Linked DNA regions of Homo sapiens. The protein of the gene in region 2 interacts with the protein of the main gene of each other region in a pairwise test. Each region holds a gene or a part of one and is shown on either strand. Other genes may lie near its edges.

Region 1 (2,850 bases), on a different chromosome or scaffold from region 2:
TCTTCAGTTTTATCCATGCTTGTGCTTTTTATATTAATTATGAATGCTGATCTAGGGAAGTAGGCTGGTTTTATGTAGTCTTTTGTTGTCTTTGAAGAAGGGAATTGCCAAAGACAAGGTTGTAAATAGATTTTGGGGGTGAGCCACATTTGTGTTGATACAATCATAATCTTAAATTGTGTGTCTTCCTTAGGGCAGAATAAGTTTTTTGTTTTTTTTAATGTTAAAAGGACATTTGTGTTTAAGTTAGCATTTTTATATTTATCAGTGTTTTATAATTAATAGTAAATTCTTCATTAATTAAAAATATTTTGTTATTCTTTTTAGTACGAGCTCAACTGGAGGCAGTCCTGTGCGGAAATCTGAAGAAAAAACAGATACAAAGCGAACTGTGATTAAAACGATGGAAGAATATAATAATGACAATACCGCGCCAGCTGAAGATGTTATCATTATGATTCAGGTTCCTCAATCCAAATGGGATAAAGATGACTTTGAATCTGAAGAAGAAGATGTTAAATCCACACAGCCTATATCAAGTGTAGGAAAACCTGCTAGTGTTATAAAAAATGTTAGTACAAAGCCATCAAATATAGTCAAGTATCCTGAGAAAGAAAGTGAGCCATCCGAGAAAATTCAGAAATTCACCAAGGACGTGAGCCATGAAATCATACAACATGAGGTTAAAAGTTCAAAAAACTCTGCATCTAGTGAAAAAGGGAAAACCAAAGATCGAGATTATTCAGTGTTGGAAAAGGAGAACCCTGAAAAGAGGAAGAACAGCACTCAGCCAGAGAAAGAGAGTAATTTGGACCGTCTGAATGAACAAGGAAATTTTAAAAGTCTGTCTCAATCTTCCAAAGAGGCTAGAACGTCAGATAAACATGATTCCACTCGTGCTTCCTCAAATAAAGACTTCACTCCCAATAGAGACAAAAAAACTGACTATGACACCAGAGAGTATTCAAGTTCCAAACGTAGAGATGAAAAGAATGAATTAACAAGACGAAAAGACTCTCCTTCTCGGAATAAAGATTCTGCATCTGGACAGAAAAATAAACCAAGGGAAGAGAGAGATTTGCCTAAAAAAGGAACAGGAGATTCCAAAAAAAGTAATTCTAGTCCCTCAAGAGACAGAAAACCTCATGATCACAAAGCCACTTATGATACTAAACGGCCAAATGAAGAGACAAAATCTGTAGATAAAAATCCTTGTAAGGATCGTGAGAAGCATGTATTAGAAGCAAGGAACAATAAAGAGTCAAGTGGCAATAAACTACTTTATATACTTAACCCACCAGAGACACAGGTTGAAAAAGAGCAAATTACTGGGCAAATTGACAAGAGTACTGTCAAGCCTAAACCCCAGTTAAGTCATTCCTCTAGACTTTCCTCTGACTTAACTAGAGAAACTGATGAAGCTGCTTTTGAACCAGACTATAATGAAAGTGACAGTGAAAGTAATGTTTCTGTAAAAGAAGAGGAATCTTCAGGAAACATTTCTAAGGACCTGAAAGATAAAATAGTGGAGAAAGCAAAAGAGAGCCTGGACACAGCAGCAGTTGTCCAGGTGGGCATAAGCAGGAATCAGAGCCACAGCAGCCCCAGCGTCAGCCCCAGCAGAAGCCACAGTCCTTCTGGAAGCCAGACCCGAAGCCACAGTAGCAGTGCCAGCTCAGCAGAAAGTCAGGACAGCAAGAAGAAGAAGAAAAAGAAGGAAAAGAAAAAACACAAGAAACATAAAAAGCATAAGAAGCATAAGAAACATGCAGGCACTGAAGTGGAATTGGAAAAAAGCCAAAAACACAAACACAAGAAAAAGAAGTCAAAGAAGAACAAAGATAAAGAGAAGGAGAAGGAGAAAGATGACCAAAAAGTGAAATCTGTCACTGTGTAAAAAGACAGATTTTTTAAATTGACTTAATTACTAAGTCATCTGTATTAAATTTTGTTATAATGTAAAGAGATTCAAGCCTTGTAAATAATGACATGGAAGACCCTGTGCTGCACTTAAAATATTGCTGCTTGATTATTTGATTTTTACATCAGAGCTTTATAACACGAACTTTTGTACAGAATTGTGAGTTGTGACCATGTAACATGAGAGGTTTTGCTAGGGCCTATTATTTTTAACCACCATTAATTAGTTGGGGTGGAGTTTACTGTAATGTGAAATTTTCACATTTGAATTTTTTAATTGCCTGGCAAAAGCTGATATAAGTTCTAAAATATCAGCAGAATGATTTGCTGAATTCATTACAACCCTGTTATGTCACTTTTTGATTACAATAAAAGTTTTCAGTAAACTTTTCAAATGTTGAGTATTTGCATTATTTACAGAAAGTAGTGCCATATCTGTATACTTAACCCACCAGATGCAGGTTGTATGTGTGTCTCCATTTTCCTATTTTAAAATTCTTAGTTTTTAATACAAGCTGAACTGAATATACAGAATTCTAAATTAAACATGGAAGATACATTTCATAGGTGGGCAGGTGGTAGAGGCCAGAAATGAATCAGGATTAATTGGAGATGTGGTTAAATAAATCTAGGAGAGTCTTGAATTACATAGAAATTCGAAGTTTGAACTTTCAAAATGGTTTGGATTTGAATATTAGAGATGCAGAATTGTGACTCGTTTATGGCCACGTATTTTTCTGGAAACCCTGATAAATAAGTATTAAATTCCTTGATAAAGGAGAATGCAGCTAAACCAGTGAGTGCTTGTGGCCTACCCAATCTGCCCAGTTGACAAGCAAGCGGTCATTACTTACGATGAGTTTCCTTTATTGCTGTGGTTCGGGAAGTGTACCTGGGGACAGTGAAAAGGTACTGAAAGGATGTGGGGAA
Region 2 (2,671 bases):
CCTCTGTGCCCACTCTGGCACCTCCCCTGAGGACAGGAAGGGACAGGCACAAGTTCCCTGCTAGCCCTGAGCCCCCCACTCTCCCTGCCTCCCAGACGCCTCTCCTTCCCTGACCCCTGCTCTATGTGGTCTACACTGCCAGGTCCTTGAGTCCCGGCTGCAGCGGCCCCTGCCTGAGGACCTGGCCGAGGCTCTGGCCAGTGGGGTCATCCTGTGCCAGCTGGCCAACCAGCTACGGCCGCGCTCCGTGCCCTTCATCCATGTGCCCTCCCCTGCTGTGGTCAGTTGGGGCTGGGGAAGAGGTGGGGGATGGGCCGGGGCGCCTGTGGCCTCTCCCTTACCACATTTTCTTCTTTCACCCACCCCAGCCAAAACTCAGTGCCCTCAAGGCTCGGAAGAATGTGGAGAGTTTTCTAGAAGCCTGTCGAAAAATGGGGGTGCCTGAGGTATGGGGGCTGCTTTCTAAAGAGTGGTGGCATGCCGGACTCAGCCGAGCATGTGGCATGGATGGTGGGCTTCCATTTGCAGCGGATGTCTGCTCTCAGATGAAGGCACAGGCTGCCCCTGCCCTGCCCAGCATGCCCCCTGCCCTGCATGCCCCCTGCCCTGCATGTCACCTGTCCTACACATCCCCTGCCCTGCAGGCCCCATCTTGTCCTGCATGTCACCTGTCCTGCACATGCCCTGCCCTGCACTCCTCCTGCACTGCACTCCCCCTGCCCAGCACGTCAGCATGTGGGCGTGGTTCTGGCCCCAGCACGTGAGGGCAGGGGTGGGAGGGACTGTCCTGCTGCTGCTGCTGACGTCTGTCCCTTGTCCTTGTCCACCTGCTCTCCTCTCCCCCAGGCTGACCTGTGCTCGCCCTCGGATCTCCTCCAGGGCACTGCCCGGGGGCTGCGGACCGCGCTGGAGGCCGTGAAGCGGGTGGGGGGCAAGGCCCTACCGCCCCTCTGGCCCCCCTCTGGTCTGGGCGGCTTCGTCGTCTTCTACGTGGTCCTCATGCTGCTGCTCTATGTCACCTACACTCGGCTCCTGGGTTCCTAGGCCCCAAAATCGGCCCTCCCTCACCCCTTTCCCTTCCTCTCTATTTATAAGGTCCCTGCTCCACCCGACCCCACCTGCGGTGCCTTCAGCCCCAACCAAAGACACTAGTGCACCCCCTTCACAGACACTGACCTCAGAGGCCCCACTCTGGTGCCCCCAGACCCTGGGCCCCCAGCCTCTGGCCTCCCTCCAGTAGCCCCACGAGTCCCCACCTCTCAGTGCTGACGGTGCCTTCATGTCCCCGCCGGCCCTGCCCCTGCCCTCTGTACCCCGTGAGGGGTGGCAGGAGCTGGAGTCTCCCCCTTCCTCCTGTGCCCTCCCCTTCCCCCCCCAACAGCTGCTATGGGGGGGCTAAATTATCTCTATTTTGTAGAGAGGATCTATATTTGTAGGGGTTCGGGGCCCAGGCCGGGTCCCTATCTCTGTGTATAAACTGTACAGACCGTGGCCGCCCTGCCTGTGTGTGTGTGTGTGCGCGCGCGCGCGCGTCTGCTCCGCGTGTTGGTGGCTGTGGCCATGGCTCTGTGCCCACCAGCATCTCCCTCCTGAGATGCCGGCCTCTCATGCTCCCGGAGCGTCCGCCAACCCCCCGTGTCACCTCCCTTCTGTTATCGCTGACAGCTTTCTTGCGTCTCATTTGTCGCCGAGCCCCGAGCGCACGGTGATGCTCGGGTCTGCCCCCGACCCCCTGCCACAGGCCGGAAGCCGCAGGGGGCACCGTGGGGAAGCTAACCCGGCCCCTTCCCCCAGGAGTCACTGTGCCAGCCCCACCACATCCTGGAAGAGGAGGGGGCCCCGGGAAGGGGCCTCCCCTACATCGCTGCTGTCGTCCACGCCCTGCTGGACCGGCCTTAGGGGTGAAGGTGGGGGCACAGGGCCCACCCCGCCCGGGACCCCGGGAGCAGAAGACGCGCCTGGGCTCCGCGCTCTCAGAGAAGCACGTGGTGAGGGTGGCCTGGGCCTGGGCACCCTTGGCCTGCCGGCCTGGCTGCCTCTGGGGTCGAGGGTCTGGGTGGAAGGACCGCGGGTGTCGCAGGTGTCGTGTCAGCCGCAATAAACAGAAGCCAGAAGCCCTCTGGGTGGCCCTCAGGTGTAACTGTGTCTGAGAGCACGTGCGTCGCGGGGTTGTTGGGGGGGCCTCTGTTTCCGGAATTCACCGCCCAGTCGCCAGGGGGCGCCCGCGGGAGCCCGGCGGGGGCACGCGCCACGTGGCCGGGAGACGCACAGGGCGCCAGCGTCGCCGCGAGGCCTCTGGGGTGGGTTCGCCAGGAGGGCACGTTCGCGCCGCGCCGCGGAGGGAGGCTGAGAGGGCCGGGCCGGGCGGCGGGGACACGGCGGTACCGTCCTGCGCTCGGGAACGCGGAATGTTGCCCTGGTCGCCGCCGCGGTGGGGCGCGGGCCCGGAGGAGGCGCCCGAGGGACCAGGCCTTCCGGCGGGCAAGGACCAGGGCGAGCCCTGGAGCGCCGGAGCGGACGCCCCCAGGGAGCTGGGGACACCCCCATGGGACAGGTGAGGGGCTCGGACGGAGCCGTGGGGGGACAGCGACTGGGGGCCTCCATGCCTTCACCACGCGCTCTACGGAGGCTTCTCCATTGTCCCTGCTGGAGATTGGGTCCCTCGGTCTCC

Evidence for each region. The genes of interacting proteins can lie anywhere in the genome.
Region 1: the proteins of LRCH4 (region 2) and RBBP6 interact in a two-hybrid assay, tested with the Homo sapiens proteins (one study listed by BioGRID).

What each region holds. Positions count from the first base shown.
Region 1 is NC_000016.10:24,570,549-24,573,398, forward strand, and holds the end of RBBP6 (E3 ubiquitin-protein ligase RBBP6), read left to right. Parts: intron 1-327; coding exon 328-1,897; 3' UTR 1,898-2,315; downstream 2,316-2,850. UniProt on the Homo sapiens protein: E3 ubiquitin-protein ligase which promotes ubiquitination of YBX1, leading to its degradation by the proteasome.
Region 2 is NC_000007.14:100,573,480-100,576,150, reverse strand, and holds the end of LRCH4 (leucine-rich repeat and calponin homology domain-containing protein 4), read left to right. Parts: intron 1-142; coding exon 143-280; intron 281-368; coding exon 369-446; coding exon of another isoform or gene 447-764; exon of another isoform or gene 765-846; coding exon 847-1,044; 3' UTR 1,045-1,794; coding exon of another isoform or gene 1,795-1,899; 3' UTR 1,900-2,140; downstream 2,141-2,671. Other genes in the region: histone deacetylase complex subunit SAP25, read left to right, coding at 2,409-2,554. UniProt on the Homo sapiens protein: Accessory protein that regulates signaling by multiple TLRs, acting as a broad-spanning regulator of the innate immune response. In macrophages, binds LPS and promotes proper docking of LPS in lipid raft membrane. May be required for lipid raft maintenance.